7 linked regions of the Homo sapiens genome follow. The protein of the gene in region 5 purifies or fractionates together with the protein of the main gene of each other region. This does not show direct contact. Each region holds a gene or a part of one and is shown on either strand. Other genes may lie near its edges. The genes, in order: LCLAT1, RAB10, RHBDD1, ZDHHC18, TMEM63C, PLD1 and UGGT1.

Region 1 (2,740 bases), on a different chromosome or scaffold from region 5:
CCCATTACAAGAGGCTCCGTGATTCTCATGTGTTTGTCTGTTTGCTAAGCACATTTTTATACATTTGTCAGATTTTGGTCCAAGATTTGCTTTTATAGTTATATACTCCCCAACGTGAGGTCAGGGACTGGAGCACAGAGTCCCACTTATCTTAGGTAAGAGTTGGTCATGCTGATATTTATATAAGATCCCACATTTGTGGAACAACCAAATTGTTCTCAATAGCAAGGCTGTGCTAAGAGATGGAGGAAAATCAAGTTCTGATGACATTCGTTGAGTCCTTAATTCAATTGTGGTGCCTGGACTTTTCCTATTATGGAGGTAGTACATTGTTTTCTTGATTAGGCCACTTTTCTTGACATCTGTGGAAAAAAGAGACCTAACTGGCCAGGTTTTTCCTTAACACTAGACACTGCAATGCAAGGCATTGTGGGGAAAAAAGTAGCACCTTAACTTGCAGTTACTTGTTATTCCTGCAAAAACAGAACGTAACACACATGTAAACTATTTAATTCACTCCTTTATTCTGGGATGTATATTACAGATAACACAACTCACAAATATACCATCAGACATTGAAAACTAAGGCCATTCTGTGAGTTATTTTTAAAACTTGGTGTTTTGCACATAATGATCTTAAAAAAAAATGAATTACCAAAACCAAGATTCTCTTCTAAAATGAAAATTTAATGCAGGTACAGGATAACTTTAGGGCTATATCTAATCTGAAGCTTATCAGGTAGCAAAACCATTTTCGTTTTCTACAGCATAAATAACAGCTCTAAGGCAACCACTACCTCAGCATGAAGCTCATTTCTCCACGTTAGAGTAGTGTTTACCTGCTACAGTGACCAGTGTTTAGAGACCATTTCCCTTTCAGTAGCAAAAAGAGACTTTACCTAAGAAACACACTACATACTACAGAATCCTTGGAACAAGAAACAGAAAGGGAGCTGTAACTAAGGCACTGAAAGCACATTATTTGTATAAAGAAATGTAAACAATTTAACACCAACAGGCTCCCTCCGTTGGAGTCTTTATTGTAAATGCACACAGGGGCATCATAGTCAGGGCTAGAGTTTGAAGTCTGGGTGAAACAAATGTTTCTGCAGAGTTCAGAGTCTTGGCTGCCAATATATTTCTAACATGGTGCTGTTGAATTAACTATTTCAAAGTGACTCAAGTGGAAGCTGGTATTTCCCTTGAATCTGAGTTTTAATAGCATTAACAAACAAGGAAGAATTTTATAGGAGTCCTAAAATTACGGGCTCTTTCTAACATTTATTTGAGTCTTTTATCAAGTTCTTCTAATGAATTTTAGGATTATTTTGGCTTATTTCATCAAGGAAGTTTGGTGTAAGAACTTGTTACCTAATGAGTGCCCCTCCTTGTAAGTTCATATTTCAAGTTACATGGTTCATGCCATAAATAAACCACACTTGCTTTAACATCGTTCAGAATGGTACATTTAACAATTGGACATACAGCACTGTAAACAATTCAAAGTCCATTGAGCTTACCATGAAAGAACTGAAACGTATGTAGGAACTGTGTCCTGCTGCAGACAAGCAGCTGCTCTGGCTCTGGTGCGGTGCGGTGCAGTGAGGTGAGGTGGGCAGGTGTGGAAGGGAGAATTCCTGAGGCCAGTCACAATTATTGAAGCTAAATTAATTTCTTCCTGACACTTTAGCATTAATTCTAAGTAGTTCTAAGTTCTAAACCATTAACTGTATAGTTAATTTTTTTAAATCAAAGAAGAAAAAGGCTTTCACACAGATGAATGTATAGGAAAACACAAGTAATGACAATTTTCAAGAGCCTTATTGTAAAAAAAGAAAGAAAGAAAAAAGGACAATTATTTTTGGAGTTACTGTCTCTAATTCTTAAAAAGTAAGTACAGTGTCTGTATCTCTAAGTTTTAGTGCTATACAGCACTAAATGTACTTTATGAATTTGGGGTAGGTAAAGTTTGTATTTTATCTTAAACATGTTTTCTATGATGAAAAGGAACAAAATTGTAAAAAATGAGGATCTTCCCTCTAAAGGTTTCAAAGCGTTAGAGGACATGCAATTAAATGTTGTTACACCTTGAACAATGAGCCTCTTGAGTTTGTAGGAAGGGCAGACCGGCTCCATTACCAACAACTTTGGGGTAGAAAGCACAGCTCTCCTCTTTTACCCAGCACAAATGCAATCCTGATTATAAAACTATTTGTGTTTCTAAATACAACCAAAGGAAATCTTAGAGAAACATAAATTAGAAACCTCTTTTATTAAGGGGAAACAACAAAAAAAGGTGCTTTTTTAAAAAAAAAAAAAAAAAAAGAAAAGAAAAAGAAAAAACAAGCTGTAAAACCATGAAGTTAAAGAGCTGGGTCTGGAGCAGATGTGCATAATAACTAGTTAGTTGCTCCCAGCAGGATCAGAAACAGCTTTGGGGGAGCAGAGGAATATGGGTTGGTGTGTTTCAGAAGAGGCACCAGTTAATACTCTTCCAATAAAAATGATGTGTCAACAGTGTTCAGCCTCAACCAGTGCTTTCTCACAGAATCTGCTTGGTAAGTTCAGTTCACAATGTGTTTACCTTTCATGGCAATGCACGATGCAATTATTGGGTAGGTCACTGTCAAGCAAAAACGAGATATAATTACAGAGAAGGCATTAATGCCCAAAGAGTACATAAAGCAGTAAGTAGCTTCTGAGGCTGGTTCAATGCAGAAGTAAAACTAACAGGTTTGCT
Region 2 (3,500 bases), on a different chromosome or scaffold from region 5:
AAAAATATAAAAATTAGCTGCATGTGGTGGCACGTGCCTGTAATCTCAGCTATTCCAGAGGCTGAGGCAGGAGAATCTCTTGAACCTGGGAGGCGGAGGTTGCAGTGAGCCAAGATCGTGCCACTACACTCCAGCCTGGGCAACAGAGCGACACCCTGTTTCAAAAAAAAAAAAAAAAAAAAGACTAGGTGAAGAATTCTTAGACATAACACTAAACACATGATCTGTAAAAGAAAAAAAAATCAGTAAATTAATTAGACTTTCACAAAATTAAAAGCTTCCTCTCTACAAAATACCCTGTCAAGGGAATGAAAAGACTAGCTACAGACTTGGAGAAAATATTTACAAGCCAGTGTATCTGACAAAGGACTTCTGTATAAAAAGAACTTTCAAAAGTCAGCAGTAAAAAGACAAAAAAACTGACAATCCAGGCCAGCCACGGTGGCTCACGCCTGTAATCCCAGCACTTTGGGAGGCTGAGGCGGGCTGATCACCTGAGGTCAGGAGTTTGAGACGAGCCTGGCCAACATGGTGAAACCCCATTTCTACTAAAAATACAACCGTTGGCTGGGCGTGGTGGTGGGCGCCTGTGATCCCAGCTACTTGGGAGGCTGAGGCAGGAGAATCACTTGAACCCAGGAGGCAGAGGTTGCAGTGAGCCGAGACTGTGCCATTGCACTCCAGCCTGGGCGGCAAGATCGAAACTCTATCTCAAAAAAAAAACCCCAAAAACAAAAAACTAACAATCCAATTAGAAAATGGGCAAAAAAAAAAACCAGACATTTCACCAAAGAGGACATGTGGATGGCAAATAAACACATGAAAAAATGTTCACCATCTTAGCCACAGGGAAATACAGATTAATGTGATGATGAAATATTACTATGTGCCCTCTTAGAACTACAGAAATAAAAAAGTGACAGCATCAAATGCTGGTGAGGATGCAGAGAAACTGGATCTTTTATATGTTGCTAGTGCAAATGTCAAGTGATAGAGCCACTCTGGAAAAAGTTGGCCAGTTTCTTACCGTTATACACTTACCATATTACCCATAAATAACATTCCTGGGCATTTATTTCAAAGAAATGAAAAATTATGTCCACATAGAAACCTGTAAATGAATATTCTTCGAACTTTGTTATAGCCAAAAACTGGAAACAACCCTGAATGTCCTTCCATGGGTGAATAATTAAGCAAATTGTGATACAGACATACCATAGAATGCTACCCAGCAATGAAATGGGACAGACCAGGATTATGTGCAAAACTTGAGAGGACTTCAAGAGCATTATGGTGAAAGAAGTGTTAAATGCCGATTTCAAAAGGTAGCATACTACATGATTCCACTTACGTAACATTCTGGAAATGAAAAAAATATAAACATAGAAAACAGATTATTGATCAGAGTTTAGGGACTATGGGGAGTAAAGAGGTGATGTAATAGTTCTTTGTCTTGTGGTAGTTACACAAATCTGTACATGTAATAAATTGTAGAGAACTATATATACACACATACACAAATAAGTGCATGTAAAAAAAAAAAACCCTGAAATCTTAATAAGGTCTGTAGATTGTATCCAATGTCCATTTTCTGGTTTTGCTATTATGCTGCAGTAATATAAGATGTTATCATTAGGAAAAGCTGGGTGAAAGGTACCCAGGACCTCTCTGCACAGTTTTGTAACTTCCTGTAAGGCTGTAATTATTTCAAAATAAAAGTTTTAAAAATATTAACTCGAAAGAGGAGCAGGGATAGTTGGAGAGATACAGGGTTGAGATTGGGGTCTTTTGCTTTATATTTATTTATTTATTTATTTATTTATTTATTTATTTATTTATTTATTTTGAGACGGAGTCTCGCTCTGTCACCCAAGCTGGAGTGTAGTGGCACCATCTTGGCTCACTGCAACCTGTGCCTCCTGTGTTCAAGCAGTTCTCTTACCTCAGCCTCCCGAGCAGGTGGGATTACAGGCACGTGCCACCATGCCGGGCTAATTTTTGTATTTTTAGTAGAGATGGGGTTTCACCATGTTGGCCAAGTGTCTTGAACTCCTGACCTTAAGTGATCTACACGCCTCAGCCTCCCGAAGGGCTGGGATTACAAGTGTGAGCCACTGCGCCCGACCTTATTTTTGCTTTTTTAAAAAAGATACTAAAACATGTTTGTAAGCTGATGAGATGATCCATAAAAGAGCAAAATGATGATACAAATGAGAGGGCATAGTTACAGGAGCAAAATACATCTTACACCTTTGGCTTTAAGCATTAAATAATGGAAAATACTACTATTTACATTTCTGTCTTATTATTTATAAGTGAGGTTATCTTTACAACTTTTGGTTAATGATTCTAAATGTAAATATGACTGTACTATGGTATAGTTCTCTAATGTTCTAAAAATCCTACCTGCTTTTGTGTTACATTATGGAACTAAATTATTAAATAAAATGAAATTTTAAGAGTTTCTATGGTGTTTGCTAGTGCTTATTCAATAAACTTGAGTTTTATGTGTCACTTCCTACTGTTTTCCCTTTCAGATTTTCATCCAGTATGGGTAGGTTATTAATTTCCTTCAACTAAAAAGTTTTTATATATACTTAGGAAAAACTATTCTTGTTTTGTCCTTTATGTGAAATGTAGTAATATCAAAATGCTTAATAGAAATTATTGGCTGTTTATTTCAGGGATACAGCAGGCCAGGAGCGATTTCACACCATCACAACCTCCTACTACAGAGGCGCAATGGGTATCATGCTAGTATATGACATCACCAATGGTAAAAGTTTTGAAAACATCAGCAAATGGCTTAGAAACATAGATGAGGTAAGACCTAGAACTTGTATAAACCCTTCATGAACACACATTTGTGTGCTTGGTTAGGAAGAATAAATATTCCAACTGATCTTCAGGATATAATGTACTGTTGAAGTCATTATTATTGAAGTATTTCTATTTTCTAAAAGTTAATGTTGGCCGGGCATGGTGGCTCATGCCTGTAATCCCAGCACTTTGGGAGGCTGAGGTGGGAGGATCACCTGAGGTCAGGAGCTAAAGACCAGCCTGGCCAACATGGTGAAACCCCATCACTACTAAAAATTATAAAAATCAGCTGGGTGTGGTGATGTGCACCTGTCGTCCCAGCTACTCAAGAGTCCAAGGCAGGAGAATCTCTTGAACCTGGGAGGTAGAGGTTGCAATGAGCCAAGATTGCGCCACTGCACTCCAGCCTGGGCAACAGAGCAAGACTCCGTCTCCAAAAAAAAAAAAAAAAAAGTTAATGTTGTTATTTGCTAATTTTTTCTTAAGTTTTTGGACAGTCTATCTAGAGCCCCATTCAAGACAATTAGTAAATTACTCCAAAACTCTGTATAGCCATCTTACAAGATGACCCCAAATAGAAGCTACCAGTGATTTTACAATGATTTTCTGGAAATGAATTTTTTCTTAATAAATTTTTATTGAATGAATGAAATGTCCGGTAGTAATTTTTTAAAACTTTA
Region 3 (3,500 bases), on a different chromosome or scaffold from region 5:
ATTTCTTGTTTTGGCCAGGTTTGTCAAAGATCAAGTTGTTGTAGTTGTGTGGTCTCGTTTCTGAGTTCTCTATTTTGTTCCATCTGTCTATGTATCTGTTCTTGTACCAGTACCATGCTGTTTTCGTTACTGTAGCCTTTTAGTATAGTTTGAAGTCTGGTAGTGTGATGCCTCCAACTTTGTTCTTTTTGCTAAGAATTGTTTTGGCTACTTGGGCTCTTTTTGATTCCATAAAATAGTTTTATCTAAATCTGCGAACAATGTCAATGAAAGTTTAATGGGAATAGCATTAAATCTATAAATTACTTTGGGCAGTATGGCCGTTTTCATGATATTGATTCTCTCTGTTCATGAGCATGGAATGTTTTTCCATTTGTGTCCTCTCTAATTTCTTTGAACAGTGGTTTGTAGTTCTCCTTGAAGAGGTCTTTCACTTCCCTTGTTGGCGGTATTCCTAGGTATTTTATTCTTTTTGTAGCAGTTGTGAATGGGAGTTCATTTATGATTTGGCTTTCTGCTTGCCGGTGTTGGTGTATAGGAATGCTAGCAATTTTTGCACATTGATTTTGTATCCTGAGACTTTGCTGAAGTTGCTTATCAGCTTAAGAAGCTTTTGGGCTGACACAATGGGGTTTTCTAGATATAGGATCATGTCATCTGCAAACAGATAATTTCACTTCCTCTCTTCCTATTTGAATACACTTTATTTCTTTCTCTTGCCTGATTGCACTGGCCAGAACTTCCAATACTGTGTTGAATAGGAGTGGTGGGAGAGGGCATCCTTGTCTTGTGCTGGTTTTCAAGGGGAATGCTTCTAGCTTTTGCCCATTCAATATGATATTGGCTGTGGGTTTGTCATATATGGCTCTTATTATTTTGAGGTAAGTGCCTTTAATCCCTAGTTTATTGAGAGTTTTTAACATGAAGGGATGTTGAATTTTATCGAAGGCCTTTTCTGCATCAGTTGAGATACTCATGTGGTTTTTGTCTTTAGTTCTGCTTATGTGATGAATCACATTTATTAATTTGTATATGTTGAACCAACCTGGCACCCCGGGATGAAGCCAACTTGATCGTGGTAGATAAGTTTTTTGATGTGCTGGTGGATGCAGTTTGCCAGTATTTTGTTGAGGATTTTTGCCTTGAGGTTCATCAAGGATATTGGCCTGAATTTTTCTTTTTGTTGTTGTATCTCTTGCCAGGTTTTGGTATCAGCATAATGCTGGCTTCATAGAAGGAGTTGGGGAGGAGTCATTCCTTTTCAATTGTTTGGAATAGTTTCAGCAGGAATGATACCTGCTCTTCTTTGTACCCTGGTAGATAGAATTCAGCTGTGAATCCATCTGGTCCTGGGCTTTTTTTGGTTGGTAGGCTATTTGTTACTGTCTCAATTTCAGAACTCATTTATTAGTCTATTCAGGGATTCAATTTCTTCCTGGTTCAGTCTTGGGAGGGTGTATGAGTCCAGGAATTTAGCCATTTCTTCTAGATTTTCTGGTTTATGTGCATAAAGGTCAGCAGCTAAGTGAGCTCTTGAGGTTTGGGGAGACTTGGTAGATCTGGAAAACTCTTCAAATTAATGCTGTGAGAACCAGCTTCAAAAGTTGTTGGTCACATAGTTTCTCAGCACAACTTTTAAATTCCAGGGAAATAGTTATTATTCCAACTTTGGTCACTATCACCTTGGATCAGTATTGGAAATGGCACCCTTGATTGATAGCTGCCCCCCGCCCCCCGGCCCCTTGCCAAAGACCGCATCCAATGGGAGTGGGAGACAGATTCCTGTTACTGAAAGAATGAAGTATTGATGCTATGCAGGCAAAAAGCCCTAAGCTGTTCCCTATCACTTAATAATTTGTGGACATCCCATGTGGTTTGTGGTAATATAACATATATTTGAAGCATGGCATGCTTTTCCCCCTTTTCACTAGTTGTTGTGCAGGGAAGACTTGAGTTACATAAATAATTCACAAACACTTCTTACACAGATTAATTTAAATGAGAGCAGGGAGTGGTGGTAGCTCTCATTTTTTCATTGACTTTAGGTAGACAAAGAAATCTGGTGCAGAGTAAACCTGAATATGGAACTACTTAAATCCTGTTGAAGGAGCGATCATGGGACGCTGGCATTGCTGTTCCCTGTGTGCCTCCTGGTTTAAAAACCTAGGTCTGAAGGGCTGTCAGTTGGAGAACTTTAATGAGCCCTCATTACACTAAACCGTGTGGTTTATGAGAGAAGAAACTGGCTTATGATTGATACTGGAAATCATAAATGGTGATGGGTCAGAATTGGAGTTGGCACTAATTCACCTAGCAGTGGAGCAAAATTTAAGATTATATACAAAATCTGGTAATTTCATTTTTTAGCCATTATTTTTTATGTATAAATATAGTCTAATCATTTTCATTTATACTATATAACACTTTTAAAAGGTGGAGAAAGAATTTTGCCAGCTGATGCTGACATTTTTTTTTTCTTCCTAAAATGGAGGCTTATTAAATTCTCAAATCATCAGATAATCTTGACAGAGATCCTGGTTTGAGATTTTACATAAAGTTTATTTTAATGAAAAACATAATTTCTGCTTTCAGGTTTCTTCTCTATATTTGTTATACTTTTTAAAAAATGCATGTGTAATTTAATCACACTATGCAGTTTTAAAATGTAGGGTCACAGAAAGTCATGGAAAATGCTAATTAGTTACTATGTTATCACAAAAACATTTTAAAACTATTTTAAGTCTGATTTGTCACAATTTGTGATTTTGTGTAATAAATATATATACATATATAATCCCATTTAATCCTTGTGAAACCAAATGAGCCTATGTTATCTTTTACAAGTGAAACTCTGAAGGTTAACTTTCCTAAGAGCACGTGGCTGGTGTATCGTAGAGCCAAGGACCATGCCCTTAACTGCTGTCCTATGCTGCATATGTTAATATTGCCACCCTTGTATATAATTTTGGCAAAAAGCACTGGGACATTTCTTTTCCCAAAGCCCATCTCTTTACTTTCAGTTCCCTGACAACTTCTTTATATTCTGAAACTGTTAAAATGTGTTGTATTATCCATCATCTTGTGCTTCTGTTTGTTGGGAATGTGGCAACAGCTCCTGTATTGCAGCAGTGTGCCCTGTGAAGCCATTTGTTCTTTATGTCTTAGAGCAGCCTGACAGCCTTTCGTGTTAAATTCAGCAAGATTGCTTTTCATTTAACAAAGCTGAATGTTGCTTTCTAGGTGAAAAATAATTAAATGCTTTTAAAGATATATTTGATTAACAGGAAGCTGATCTGTGTAAATTAATTATAACCATAATGATGTCATAGCCTTGTCTTTTGTTATTAGCCAGGTAATTGACCAGAAGTTTAGAAGCTTATTGTAACTGACAGTTAGTAGTTTGACCTTGTGTGCTGTCTGAAAGTGAAACATGCACAATGAATGTAAATGCAATTTGTTCATTGAGCTGCATGTGCTGTCAGAACATCTGATCTTGGGTT
Region 4 (3,500 bases), on a different chromosome or scaffold from region 5:
CCTCCTCCTCAACTGTCAAGCTCCATGAGGACAGGGACTATTGTCAGTTTTGTTCACTGCTGTATCACATCTAGAAAAGTGCCTGGCACATAGTAGGGGGTCAATAAATGTTTGATGAGTGAATGAATAAGTGTATATGAATGTTTAAGAGCAGGTGCTCTAGACTGAGGTCTCATCTCAGCTCTTCTACTTACTTTGTGATCTTGGACCCTCTTTTGCCTTGATTTAATTAATCAGTAAAAGGAGAATGACAACAGTACCTACCTCATAGGATTACTGGGGGATTAAATAAGATCATGCATATAAAGAGCTTAAAACAGTGCCTAGCCCCCAGGAACTACTCAGCTCCACGCTGGCTGCCATCGGGGCCTTTGCTGGCTGGCCAGCATTTCTTGCTTACTTATTTGCTCACTTGTTGATCATCTGTCTCCCTCTGTGCCAGTGTCAGCTCCAGCCTGCCTTGCTCACGACTGCATCCCCAGTTCCTAGTATAGTTTTGGAAGAGAAAACCAGGCCTCCTCCCAAGTCAGGGAATGTGGAGCTATGGAGACCCAGCTTCAGCTGGGAGTAGAAACCTCACCGATCTGTTTCTCCAGGGCGGCTGCTTCACAGACAGTGGCCCGGGGCAGGATCCCAGGGTCGGTGAAGCTTGTCTGCAGCAGGCAGCTCATGACGAAGAAGAAGAGGATGGCAGCGATGATGGGGATGGCAAGGGTCAGCTTGCGAGCCAGGTAGGGACAGCTAGAACGAGAGATGGAGAGAGATCAGCAGACACCCCAAGGGCTCCCTGCGGCACAGGGCTACAGCACGTGGCAGGCGCTGTCATTCCAACAACCACCACCAAAATCTTGAATACAGCCTCGCTCTGAGGCAGAGGCACAGCTCCTTGATGAGTGCAGCCACTCCCCAATAAGTACCGGGAACAGACATCACTAATTGATCCTTGTGATATACTTTCCTCCAGAGCACATGGCAGATGTGTCCAATAGATCCCAGCACTCCTAACCTCTGCATCCAGAGAATCCCTCTACACACAGAGCTTCAGGCAGACACTAGTGGACTGTCACCTGAGACAAACCATCCTGCAGTGTTCATTCACTCATTCATTCACTCACTCAGTCCACAAATATTTACTGAGGTCTTCTCTGTGGCAGGCAACACCTTCAATAAGCAGCAGGAATAATGACGACGGATAAGACAAGAGTCCCTCCCCCTTGTGGCTTATGGTCTAGTGGGGAAAACAAGACATGTAAACAGGGAATTGCCACACAGGGTGATGTGTGCTCTAGTGGGGGAGGGGAACGCAGTAGCACAGTCAGGAAAGGCAACCTGAAGGAGACAATCCTAAGCTCCAACCTGAAGAATGAGTAGAGGGCTGGGGGAACTGCATGGTCCAGCCACTGTCACTGTGACCCAAGGTAGGCAGGTATCCCCAAGGCAGTGCTTTCAGACCCCCTGACCCTGGCTGCCTCAGAGAATAGCCTGTGCCTGCTGAATGGTCATGCCTCTGTCCCCCAGGGAGGCTGCCTACCACAGCCCTCTTCAAGCTCCCTCCTCCATCTTAGGGCTAGAACATTCTAGAAGTTCTGGACACTGGTGGGAGAATGGCTTCATGATAGTGAAGCTATCAGGGCTCTCTCTCTATGGCCAATCCTCTCTGTTGTCACCTCACTGTCCACCCAGAAGCCAGAGCCACTTTTGGAAATGTCAATCAGATCATGTCATTTCCCTGCTTAAAACCTCCCAATTGCTTTCCATATAGTTTGAATACAATCCAAACTCCCTACCATGGCCTTCTAGGCCAGGCATGATCTGGGCCCTACTGAGGACTTCAGCCTCATTCTACAAAACTCTCGTCTTGCTCCTGCTCCTCCCATCACAATAGCCCATGACAGTTCCTATAACAAGCCTGGCTCTCTCCTACCTCAGGGCCTTTGCACTTGCTGTTCCTTTTCTCAGATTCCTCTTCCCTCCTCAGAAGGACCTACCTTGACAACTCTGTACACAGTGAACTTCAATGCTCTTTCTTTCCTGTATAACATTTAGTATAGATTTCAGCTACTTGTCTATGTGATGGCTATTTTTCTCTCACTAAAACATAAGCTTGGCCAGGCGCAGTGGCTCACGCCTGCAATCCCAGCACTTTGGGAGGCTGAGGTGGGCGGATACCTGAGGTCAGGAGTTCGAGACCAGCCTGACCAATAAGATGAAACCCCATCTCTAATAAAAACAGAAAAATTAGCAGGGTGTGGTAGCATGTGCCTGTAATCCCAGCTACTCAGGAGGCTGAGACAGGAGAATCACTTGAACCCGGGAGGCAGAGGTTGCAGTGAGCCGAGATCGTGCCATTGCACTCCAGCCTAGGCAACAAGAGCAAAACTCTATCTCAACAACAACAACAACAACAACAACAACAAACAAACATAAAAAAACATAAGCTCCTCTGTGGGTATAGACTATGTTCTCTTGTTCAGCTTTATATTTCCAGCACACTGCACAGCACCTGGCACCAAGGACGTACCCGGTAAATAACTGCTGCCAGGGGACAGAAAAATAGCTACCATCTTTTGAAGGCTTACTATGTGCCAGACACTGCCCTAATTAATAAACTACTGTTAGCAACATCCAAAGTACAGATAGTTACTGTGCTATGTACAGATAGTTACTGTACTATGTAGATAGTTACTGTACTATCTACAGATAGTTACTGTACTACTGTACCTGGATGGGCCAGGTACCAGGCTAAGCAGTTCCTGTGTACTTTCTCATCAAATCCTCACTGGGACCCTGTGAAGTTATGCTCCCCACTTTACAGATGAAGAAACTAGAGCTCAGAGAGTTTAAGTAATCTGCCCAAGGTCACATGGCTCAGGAGTGCTAAAGTGGGACCCAAGCCAGGTCTGACTTTGAGGTTCATACTTTTAACCATCACCCCATAGCCAGAGTAGCACCTGATCAGGTAAGGAGATGACGGGGCCCTGGGAGGCCTGAGATCAACCAAGCTTCCAGGAGTGGCACAGTAGGCACACACCTGTGGGCACCTGCATGCTGCTTCTGAAGTCTCCGTCATCAGATGCTCTGGCCTTCAGAGAAGCCCTTCCCCTGAGGAGCAGACTGCCAAGGCCAAGGGCTCCCAGTGGGTCACACTCTGCTCCATACATCTCAATGGTTTCTGGGTCTGACCCTCAAACAGAACCAGTGGGCGCTCAGTGTCACCCACATGGCAATGAATCCAGTTCATATGCAATCAGACTTGTGTGGGGGGACAGAGAAGACTTGAAATCTAAGACTTGTAGAGCCTGCAGGAACCACCAAGTCCTAGCCTCCTGATTTGCCAGAGGCTAACAGCTCTCCCAGGCCCACAGCTAGGTTCAAGGTCATCTAGCCAGCCAATGACAGAACTAGGGTTTCCAGCCTCCCAGCAAATACACTGTCAATTAATTCAAATACACTGTCAATTCATTCATTCAATAAGTATTGAGCACCTACTGCATACCAGG
Region 5 (3,500 bases):
AACTAGGTAAATGTTGTTTAAATTATGCTTTACAGCCAAAAATCACTGCTTAATGATGCTTACTGCAGTGTTTTTATAGTAGCAAAAAGTGGCAAACCTCAATATCCAATCACGGAGAACTGACTAAAACTGGTAGACTTTCATGCAACCGCTGAAAGGCACCTACGTGTTCAGTCTTTTAACAACCTAGGAAATTGCTCAGAACATTGTGTTCAGTACAAAACCTCAGGGTACAGGACTGAATGTTACAATATGGACTATCGCAGTTTTGCAAAGTAACAATAGACCAACTGCTCCCTCTCAATGTTCCCATGCCCAAAGCCCCAAAGCGCATGCCTGGAAAGGGGGCTGGGAACAAAAGACATCAGGTTCTGGGTAAGATGATGGGTCATTTACATGTTGGTCTTTATATTTTTTCTATTTTTGATGATAAACATGCAGTCCTTTATTCTTAGAAAAAAAGCATTATGGAAAAAATGAAGTCTCTGGGGTGGCAGGGAAAGGCTAGCGGGATAAGCAATTGGGGGTGATGGCAAATGGGTAAGCCACATAAATGACTGAGAGTCGACCGTATGGATGCCACCATGGCAGGGAGAGAAAAGAAAACACTGCCTCGGATTGCCTGAGCTCAGGAGTTCGAGACCAGCCTGGGCAACATGGTGAAACCCTGTCTCTACTAAAATACAAAAAATTAGCGGGGCGTGGTGGCACCCGCCTGTAGTCCCAGCAACTCAGGGGGCTGAGGCAGGAGAATAGCTTTAACCCGGGAGGCGGAGGTTGCAGTGGGTCGAGATCAGGCCACTGCACTCCAGCCTGGGCGACAGAGCGAGACTCCGTCTCTAAAAACAAAAGAAAAAAAAAAAAAAAGAAAGAAAACACCGCGTCTCCCTTCTCCCACCACTGAGAAGGTTAAGGTCAGGTGTCTGAGGGAAGGGCAGTGGGGTTGGGGGTTGCTGGGGGTTAAGGTGCCTCCAACGGGGAGAAAGCTGAGAGATTTCTAATCTGTGGCCTGCAGGGACTGCTTCTGGGAGGGTGTCTCTGAGCTCCCCTGGGCAGGAGCAGTAGCTGTGTGTAGCTAAAGAGTGAGGAAAAAGCTGGCCCCTACTGCAGGCTCTGTTTCCTCTTCCAGGTTTTTTGGCAACCCATAAAGCCAGGCATCTACCACTAGGCACCGGCGGCTTACGCTTATAATCCCAGCACTTTGGGAGGCCTAGGCCAGGGGATCGCTTTAGCCCAGAAATTCCAGACCAGACTGGGCAACATAGTGAGACCTCATCTCTACAAAATTAAAAACAATTAGCCAGTCATGACAGCTCACGCCTGTAGTCCCAGCTACTGGGGAGGGGGAAGTGGCAGAATTGCTTGAGACCAGGAGGTCAAAGCTGTAGTGAGCCGTGATCGCGCCACTGTACTTCAGTCTAGACGACAGAGCAAGATTCTGATTCAAAAAATAAAATTAAAAAACAAAACAAAAAACCAGGCATCTTATGGGATCCCAGAGGAAATGTCATGGGAACTGAGCCTCCCAATAGCTGATACTCTATTTTCCACCCGTCTAGACTTAGAAAGAAGGAATATGAGGTTTCCTTCCCTGAGCGCTGGAAACCCAAATCCACACCTGGGGACCATGTTGGTCCAGGGCCTCCTCTTAGCCTTGAAGCTCAGCTGAGACTCTAATGTAGGCCCTTTAGGCCCAGAGAAGTCACTGGGTGTGGCCAGGTCTGGTGAGCAGCGTCTTGCCCTGCCTGGGCTTTTCTCCTCTAACAGGGTCAGTGTTAAGGGACTCACAGAACAGTGGGGCAGGTGGAGGTGGGGTCTCCAGGCTGGCTTGGTACCTACCCAACCGCAGGATGGAGAAGAACAGCATCCAGAACAGACCCAAGAGTGGCGCAAAGATGGCCTGGGAGACGGCAGCCATGTGGATCTGCTCGTTCAGTTTGGTGGGTGCAAAGGAGTAGTACATGTTATAGCGATCCGTCAAGTGCTTCATGCACAGGTAGAGCAACCCTGGGGGACAAAGGTGGAAACTTACTCAGTGGCCCCTTCAAGTCTGGACCTTTGTGGCTCCAGTGTCTCCACAGGCCTGAGAAGCCAGATCCACGGCTGTCAGAGTCACAACAACCAAGGATGGGTTGGGGGAGCTCCGTGGTACTGACCTCCGGAGCCAGCAGCTTCCCTTGAGCCCCGAGAACTGACTGTTTCAGCTTGGTGAAGAGTCATTCTCTCATGCGTTCATTCAACAAACATCCCCCATCGGCAGCCATCCAACCTCAGCTGCCCTGTACCCCCAGCTTGGCCCTGGCCCTGACCCCTCCCTACCACAGGTCTCCCCATGCTCCAGGAGGTGGACTGATGTTGTGAGGCTCAATTCCTCCTCCCCATCTGCGGATGTGCAGCCCTTGGGCATGCCTTGGAGATGACTCACCAAAAGGCACAATGATGGGGCAAGTGATGCTGTACGCCATCACCACGCTGAACACGTTCATCATCCACGCATACTCACGCCCAAACTGGAAGTCTATGGCCTGGTTCTGGGGCAGAAGGCAGGTGTCACCCTGAGGTGGCCCAGTCCCCTTGGCTTGACTACTTCTGTGGCTCCTCATCAGCCTCCTGGCAGCTCAGGCCTGGAGGCAGCCTCCTTTCCAACCCTGTAGACCAAGGTGCCCCACCAACACCCATCCACACCGTCCCTCCCACCTCAACCCCCTTGGTGCTTCTAGCAGGCTCTATCCCTGACACCCTCCCAAAGGAAACTGAGGGCTGTGCTCAGCGGAGAGCCAGTCTGTACCTTTCTGATGTTGACTCTCTCTGGCTCTGATCTAGAGAAGAAGAGGCGGGTGCTGTAGCAGAAGAGTGACCCCAGACGCAGCAGCTCCATGCCTGTGCCAAGTAAAGCTGCCGTGATCACGTAGTTGACAAAGAAGGCGCCGTTGTCTGGCAGGAACACACACCTGGGCAGTGAGGGAGAGGGAAGGTGGCAACAGAAGCCACAGGGAGAGGGAGAGATGTTAAAAGGGAGGAGAGAGAGGAGAGCAGCAGAGGGAATGGGAATCGGAGTGGAGATACAGATACAGACAAGGAGAATAACATTTCCTCTCTTTCTTTTTCTCTGTCTCTCTCCTATAATATATATGTCCCCAACCCAATGAAGTTAACAAGCAGTCCCCTGAGCAGGGAGGGGCAGGGACCACATAAAGCATGGGTGTGTTAGGGGATACATGCATTGGCTTGATCCAAAGCAAGGGTGTCTGAGCCAGGTCCAAAGACTCGGGAGAATCCATGAGTGGGTTTCTGGGGGGTCTGTAAACTAGGATGGGAAAAAATAACATCTTTATTTTCACTAATCTCTAACTGAAATTTAGCATTTTCTTGCATTAAGAATGTGGGCAATACGGCAGGGCATGGTGGCTCACACCTGTAGTCCCAGCACTTTGGGAGGCCGAGGTGAGCAGATCACCTGAGGTCAGGAGTTTGAGACCAGCCCAGCCAACATGGTGAAA
Region 6 (3,500 bases), on a different chromosome or scaffold from region 5:
AGAACTATCACAGAATTAACTGTGAATAAAGAACTCACAAGGTGGCACTATGAGAGCAGTAAAGCTGGTGGGGGGCTTTCAGGGGCAGAGTGGGAAGGGCGGGGAGGGGAGAGGTGGAGAAACCTGAGACGCAGGGGCAATAAAGACACCATGCCACTTCTTTTTCCTCAACCAACATGGTGCACACCTGATGCATAATTCTTTTGCATTAAAGCAAGAACCTCAAATTTACAGATAGCCCATGTTCCAGCCCTGGAATTAATTAGCTAAGTGACACTGAGCTTCAGTTTTTTAGATCATAAATCCATTATGCGTAAAATGAAGAATTTGGCCTAGATAACAGCTAAAATCTGTTGCGCTTTAACATTTATATACTTCAAATCATAGATGGCATTTATAAAAAATATGGTAACAACAGATGAAAGCTTATGATATAGGTGCAAAAGCAGCAATCTACTATAGCATTTCACAAATAACTGTGCCGAGACCATTGACTTACGGCTAAATACAAAGACAATGAAGTAAAAAGATGCAGAATTACAAATCACAAACGCAGCACTTGGCACAAAAGAGGCATTTAACAAATAGACACTGAATGCAAAAATATGTGTTGAATGAATAAATGGTACTGCTTGCAGTAGCCAGTGAGAGGACTACACTGGTCCTGCCACCAACACACTGTCCCAGAACTGTCTTTGTAAAATGCACTCTTTGCTTAAAACCCTGGAAGGTTCACATACTGCCTATAGGAAGCTCAAGTCCTAAGGGCTTAGTGTGCATAGAAGACTCTTCCCAAACTGGTGCCAATCTATCTTTCTAGTCCTTGTTTTTCCCCACCCAACCCCAGGCCCCATGCAAATCACGTGTTTCACTGTATTATAACAGGTGTGGACTGCCATGTCTCCATGCAGTTGGCACATTATTACTTCTACCTGAAATGCTCCTTTCTCCCTCTTGGCCTGATATCCTAATCATCCTTCAAGAGCCACATTAGCTATCACCTGCCATCTCCCCATAAGGAAGAGGCAGTCACTAGCACTGCTGTCATCCCACTAACAACTGCCCCAACACCTCTGACTCTGTGACGCAATTGTATCAGGATGCTCCCCTGCCCGCATCAATGCCTCACCAGTCTATAAACTCTTTGGGAGTGGGAACCAAATCTTCTCACTGCCAGTAGCTCCAAGCACCCAGGCAATCAATAAATATTTGCAGAACAAATGTTTTTATGTAATCACCACACACAATGCTAATATTCTATCTCAAACTGAATCATTAACCTTTCAAAGGCTATTAAAGTTTTCTACAGAAGAAAAATGATTTAAAATGCCATAGATTAGCAAAATGAAATCATGTTAAAAATAGACTTCTATTGACTTCTCCCAGTGATTTATTTTCCTGCTTTATGAGACTGAAAGGCCAAAGTACGGGTAGGTCTGTTTGCTCATCTATAGGCTCTTTATTGTTTACATAGCACTTTGTTAAAAGAAGAAAAGAGGGTGAGAAAAGAAACAAAAGGGATGAAAAATGAGATAAACAATATTTCAAATTTCAAATATAAAATACACATATACAATTTGCTTTCATCAACTGCAAAACTCTAAGCTAAGGCTTTACATAAACACATATACACTCATTTAAAAATTATCTTTCACCTAACAACCAGTTATGATAAGGAAAATAAAGGAAATTCTTAGTCTCAGGAAATTATCTTGGTACTAATTGAATTCAACCTGCTCATAATTCAAATTTGTTTTTGTTTTTAGCCATGGCCTAAAAACTATTCCACATAAATTAGGGTTCCTCCTCAGTACAAATGAACTATTAAGGCAATAGAGCCAAATACTAGTTCCTGTGAAAACAGTAGCTCAGAATTACATGAGTGTGGTCGAGAGGACTTATGGCATCAACAATGCTGATCCAAGGGGGTCTCGTTAGGCTGCTATCTGGCTCCCAAATGATTTCATAATTGCACCTGCCTTGTCTTTTGGCACAGATTTGTCAGGCCAATTTTCTGCATCCTCCTCTGTCAGTGGCTCAGATTCTGGCTACTAAAGTTTATGAGAAGGGGGACTTCTTGTTCCTTGCCTGGTGTCCTCTGGTCGTGCCACATCCTCCTCCTTCTATTCTCATCTCTCGGCTTCCAGGTCTCCATTTTTCTACCATTTCTCCAGCCTATCCTTGTTCTTCTTTCCTAGCTCCTCCTCACTAACAAGGTTTCCCCCTTTCTCCTGTCTTTTTGTTTTCTTTTTCTTCCTCTTTTTTTTTTTTTTTTTTTTTTTTTTGAGACTGGAGTGCAGTGGCACGATCTCGGCTCACTGCAACCTCTGCCTCCCAGGGCCAAGTGTTCAAGCAATTCTCCTGCCTCAGCCTCCCGAGTAGCTGGGATTACAGGCGCACACCACCATGCCCTGCTAATTTTTGTATTTGATAGTAGAGACAGGGTTTCACCATGTTGGCCAGGCTCATCTCGAACTCCTGACCTCGTGATCTGCCTGCCTCGGCCTCCCAAAGTGCTGGGATTACAGGCGTGAGCCACCACACCCGGCCTCTCCTGTCTTTTTCTATACAATTTCTAAAATGTGCACCTGCAAGGATGGCTTCTGTTTTGGACTCCAAATCTAAGGTCACTTCCAGTGCCTCACTTGACATTGTTTACCTAGTTCCCTCCAGAACTTTAAAATTATGTCTAACACTAAAATCATCATCATTCCATAAAATCAAGTCTTTCCTTGAGATTTCTGCTGTCTGTGTGTAGTAACTCAAGCTCAAACCTCGGAATCACCTTTGGCTCCTTTATTCTTCGCTGACTTCTCCACCCACCTCCCCACGGCTTCCCAGATCATGATGAAAATCTGCTGATTCTGCTTTTGGAAAAAGTTTCTCCCATTTACTTCGTTCTTGAACTCACTGACACAACCTTGTCAGACTCCCTGTGTCTCTACTATAAACGCTATAAAGCCTCACCCTTAATTGCTCCCTGCCCCTAGGGATTTTCCAACATTTAATGGAAGAGGTGCAATGTCTCAGTCTGATTTTCAAAGTCCTCCGTAAACTGCTACAGATATATCCCACCAGCTCAATCTGCACAAATCAGCCCTTAACCACAATTCCAAAACTCCAAAAGTTCTAACAATTCAAATGTTTTTTCATAGCTGATTTTCACAGCTCATTTCATAACTCACAGGTCAGCAAAATCTGACCTGAACTGACAAGAGGTTATTTATTATCTTTATTGATCCCACTTGGTGTTGCACAAACATAAATGGTTTGCCTACATTCCAGGTATTTCCTGGATCCTGCTGGGAGTGTAATATAGTAGAGGGTATAGGTATTGTATTACCTTTCTAAAATCCAGAACTTTCTGATTTCTGAAATCTGATTCCAAGGATTTTGTATGAGAGATTATAGACCTATATGTATTTACCACATTCTACACTCAGTCTGAGATGCCGAAATAAATACTTTTGCATTTCCTATATCTGGGTCTTAAGATGTAG
Region 7 (3,500 bases), on a different chromosome or scaffold from region 5:
TATTTCTGAAATATCAATCAACTATAATGTGAATAACACAGTAAACAAATCAATGCAACTCTTAAAAAACCAAAACTACACATTAAAAACTCTAGCACAGACCAGGTGCGGTGGCTCACGCCTGTAATCCCAGCACTTCGGGAGACCACGGCAGGTGGATCAACTGAGGTGAGGAGTTCGAGACCAGCCTGGCTAACATGGTGAAACCCCATCTCTACTAAAAAAGGACAAAAATTAGCCGGGCATGGTGGTGGGTGCCCGTAATCCCAGCTACTCAGGAGGCTGGGGCAGGAGAATTGCTTGAACCTGGGAGGCGGAGGTTGCAGTGAGCTGAGATCACACCACTGCACTCCAGCCTGGGCAGGAGTCTCAAAAAAAAAAAAAAAAAAACTAGTACAATAAAGGCCAGTCACACCAATAAATCATCTGCTCTTTAGCTGTGCTTCAGGGAAGAATCAACGTGTGATGCATGAATAAGTGTTGCACTTCCAAAGAAAAGAAAAAGGCTGTCAGCTCATGAGCAATCTATTTTCAGGGGGCCAATTCAGTTATAGCTGAGTATTCCAGCATGTTTTTTCTTTTGACATGTAATTCTAACCTACAAATTTAGCTGAACTAATGATTTCTATATTGACCAAATTCAGCCCATAATGAATTTTAATCTCACTCTATGGTTAAGAATGCTAATTGCTCCATCATAAATTATAGTGCCCAAATTAACGTAACTACAATATCACTATCTGATGAACAGATTATTTACCAGATTGGCCATAACAATGGTGTCCACAATGACCGGGTTGGCTGAAGTTCCTAAGGTAAACTGTAGTCCCCGTGGAGGCTGGCCTGTGGTGATGTCGTAGCAATGACCTTCCAGTAACAGGTATTCCAGCTCATACTCAGCAGCCACTACACTGTCCACCTGCAAGCCAAAATCCAATCACTTGAATGCACTCAGAGACAACATGAATAAATCTGAAATGCATTATGCAAAGTAAAGGAAGCAGACAAAAAGGACTTACATAATATATGATCATATTTTAAGAAATTCAAGAAAAGACAAAAGTATAATGACAGAAAGCAGATCAGTTGTTGCCTGAAACCAGGCGAGAGGAGGCTACTGTCTGCAAAGGGGTATAAAAGAACTTTTTGGGGTAATGGAAATGTTCTGCATCGTGGCTATAGTGGTGGTTAATGACTGTATACAATTATAAAAACTAGGTTGGAAAGAGAAAGGAGAAAAAAACAATAAGGACGTTATTCTAAAAATACGAACGAGGATAAGATACTAAATGTTGAAAAAAATTAAAGACCTAAATGCAAAGACATCCTGTACTCACGTATCAGTAGAAAAACTTGCACACAACATTCATAGCAGCATTATTCATAACAACCAAAAAGTGAAAACAACTCAAATGTCCATTCGTGAAAGGATAAATGAAACGTGATATGTCCATAAATAAAATATTATCTGGCAAGTTAAAAAGAGTGAAGCGTCGATACATACTACAGCATGGATGGATCTTGAAAACAATTTGTTATGTGAAAGAAGCCAGTTACAGAAGACCACATTTGATTCTATTTAGACAAAATGTCAGAATAGGCAAATCCATAGAGATACAAAGTAGACCAGCAGTTGCCAGGGGCTGGGGAAATGAAGAGTGACTGCTAATGAGTATGGGGCTTTCACTGGGGATGCTGAAAACATCCTACAATTACATAGTGGTGATGGCTGCACAACTCCGTGAAGATACTAAAACCTCTCAACTGTACACGTTAATGGGGAGAATTTTATGGTATATGAGTTCCATGTGAATAAAGCTGTTGTTTAAAAAAATATCATACCTGAACACTGATGTCTCAGAGGCCCACCTAGACTATGATTCAATCTGCTGTATTATACATGATTAGGTATTTGGAAGCAATAGATATGGTCTTACCTCTTCTAAATAAATATTATCAAGATCATATGGTGTTCTGACAGATTCTACCATCCAGCTCTCAGGTGTGTTCAAATTCAGAGTGAACAGTGGAGACTGAGGCATATCCAAAAATTTTGCGATTGGACCCTTAGCAAAACTATTGTCTGAAGTGAAAGAAATCTCTGGTTCTAAGACATAACGGTAAAAGCTGAAATTGAAAAGGAAAGTGTTAGATAATTTTCGATGTGACAACAGGACTTGAGTGCACAGCCCTTACACAGGTAACAACTGGTTAAAACAAATTAGATTTGGAGGAGTACCCTTCCAGATTGGGAAAAGTGTTTCCAAAACCATCTTTGACCTTATGATGCCTCCTTGTGGTTGCTGCAGATGCAAGAAAAGGCAAACAAGGACAGCACTGAGGAGGAGTGCTCAGTGGTGGCCTGTGGTGATGTCGTAGCAATGACCTTCTAGTAACAGGTACTCTAGCTCATACTCAGCAGCCACTATACTGTCCACCTGCAAGCCAAAATCCAATCACTTGAACGGAGGCCACTCGTTCACATGGATGGCTGTCAGGGTCACAGTTAGGTCCTGGGCATTTTCCTCCCTTCAAGGAGGACTCATTTTTCTCTTTAAAACCAATTCCTAAATACTGATTGGGCTCTCAGGCTAGTCCTGAAAACACTAATAATGTAAACATTTCCCCTATACGAGAATAATGGTGGAAGCTGGGAACCCTTTGGTTACTTTCAAATGCTGTTTCAATCCACTTAGAAGCTAACCTATAAAACACAGCACACTGGCAAGTTAGAAATTTCCCATAGCCACAACGCTAACTGCTTTCTGTATCACTTTTTTCATAAATGACCATTCCAAAGCTCATGACAATATATAGCTAAGCAAGCTTCCTCTAACATGTATATTCCAACTTGAAATGAATATTCTTCTTTTAAGATGAAAAGCACAAATGGGGCCAGGCGTGGTAGCTCACACCTGTAAACCCAGCACTTTGGGAAGTGAGGCAGACGGATCACTTGAGGTCAGGAGTTCGAGACCAGGCTGGTCAACATGGTGAAACCCCGTCTCTACTAAAAATACAAAAATTAGCTGGGCATGGTAGTGTGCACCTGTAATCCCAGCTACTAAGGAGGCTGAAGCAGGAGAATCCCTTGAACCCGGGAGGCAGAGGCTGCAGTGAGCCAAGATCATGCCACTGCACTCCAATCTGGGCGACAGAGCGAGACTCCATCTCGAAAAAAAGAAAGAAAAGGCACAAATGCAAGCAGCCTGGGTTAATGCCACCTAAATGCTACAAACACACTATGTTCTTAGAACTTCTGATTAGAATGAAATTTGGCAAAACTGAACATTTAGTAAATGACCATTTCAAACATGATGTCCACCTATAAATCCATCTGATCCTCTAACATGCAATATCAGAACTTGGATTCAGTACAATTTCTTCAACTGTTTTCTTACATAGCATGTTTTACCTTTTTAAAGGCATGTCAGAAAGTTTGGATTGGCAGTTCATAAATACTCTCAGATTCATGTTTATCAGCTGAGCCAAAACCTAGA

Evidence for each region.
Region 1: the proteins of TMEM63C (region 5) and LCLAT1 purify together in Homo sapiens (affinity purification with mass spectrometry; one large-scale study listed by BioGRID and IntAct). This does not show direct contact.
Region 2: the proteins of TMEM63C (region 5) and RAB10 purify together in Homo sapiens (affinity purification with mass spectrometry; one large-scale study listed by BioGRID and IntAct). This does not show direct contact.
Region 3: the proteins of TMEM63C (region 5) and RHBDD1 purify together in Homo sapiens (affinity purification with mass spectrometry; one large-scale study listed by BioGRID and IntAct). This does not show direct contact.
Region 4: the proteins of TMEM63C (region 5) and ZDHHC18 purify together in Homo sapiens (affinity purification with mass spectrometry; one large-scale study listed by BioGRID and IntAct). This does not show direct contact.
Region 6: the proteins of TMEM63C (region 5) and PLD1 purify together in Homo sapiens (affinity purification with mass spectrometry; one large-scale study listed by BioGRID and IntAct). This does not show direct contact.
Region 7: the proteins of TMEM63C (region 5) and UGGT1 fractionate together in Homo sapiens (co-fractionation; one large-scale study listed by BioGRID). This does not show direct contact.

What each region holds. Positions count from the first base shown.
Region 1 is NC_000002.12:30,641,986-30,644,725, reverse strand, and holds the end of LCLAT1 (lysocardiolipin acyltransferase 1), read right to left. Parts: 3' UTR 501-2,740; downstream 1-500. UniProt on the Homo sapiens protein: Exhibits acyl-CoA:lysocardiolipin acyltransferase (ALCAT) activity; catalyzes the reacylation of lyso-cardiolipin to cardiolipin (CL), a key step in CL remodeling.
Region 2 is NC_000002.12:26,107,084-26,110,583, forward strand, and holds part of RAB10 (ras-related protein Rab-10), read left to right. Parts: intron 1-2,684; coding exon 2,685-2,823; intron 2,824-3,500. UniProt on the Homo sapiens protein: The small GTPases Rab are key regulators of intracellular membrane trafficking, from the formation of transport vesicles to their fusion with membranes.
Region 3 is NC_000002.12:226,842,554-226,846,053, forward strand, and holds part of RHBDD1 (rhomboid-related protein 4), read left to right. Parts: intron 1-3,500. UniProt on the Homo sapiens protein: Intramembrane-cleaving serine protease that cleaves single transmembrane or multi-pass membrane proteins in the hydrophobic plane of the membrane, luminal loops and juxtamembrane regions.
Region 4 is NC_000001.11:26,829,688-26,833,187, reverse strand, and holds part of ZDHHC18 (palmitoyltransferase ZDHHC18), read right to left. Parts: intron 742-3,500; coding exon 581-741; intron 1-580. UniProt on the Homo sapiens protein: Palmitoyltransferase that catalyzes the addition of palmitate onto various protein substrates, such as CGAS, HRAS and LCK. Acts as a negative regulator of the cGAS-STING pathway be mediating palmitoylation and inactivation of CGAS.
Region 5 is NC_000014.9:77,247,798-77,251,297, reverse strand, and holds part of TMEM63C (osmosensitive cation channel TMEM63C), read right to left. Parts: intron 2,952-3,500; coding exon 2,789-2,951; intron 2,532-2,788; coding exon 2,426-2,531; intron 2,008-2,425; coding exon 1,840-2,007; intron 1-1,839.
Region 6 is NC_000003.12:171,677,984-171,681,483, forward strand, and holds part of PLD1 (phospholipase D1), read right to left. Parts: intron 1-3,500. UniProt on the Homo sapiens protein: Function as phospholipase selective for phosphatidylcholine. Implicated as a critical step in numerous cellular pathways, including signal transduction, membrane trafficking, and the regulation of mitosis.
Region 7 is NC_000002.12:128,171,200-128,174,699, reverse strand, and holds part of UGGT1 (UDP-glucose:glycoprotein glucosyltransferase 1 precursor), read right to left. Parts: intron 3,496-3,500; coding exon 3,416-3,495; intron 2,128-3,415; coding exon 1,938-2,127; intron 920-1,937; coding exon 761-919; intron 1-760. UniProt on the Homo sapiens protein: Recognizes glycoproteins with minor folding defects. Reglucosylates single N-glycans near the misfolded part of the protein, thus providing quality control for protein folding in the endoplasmic reticulum.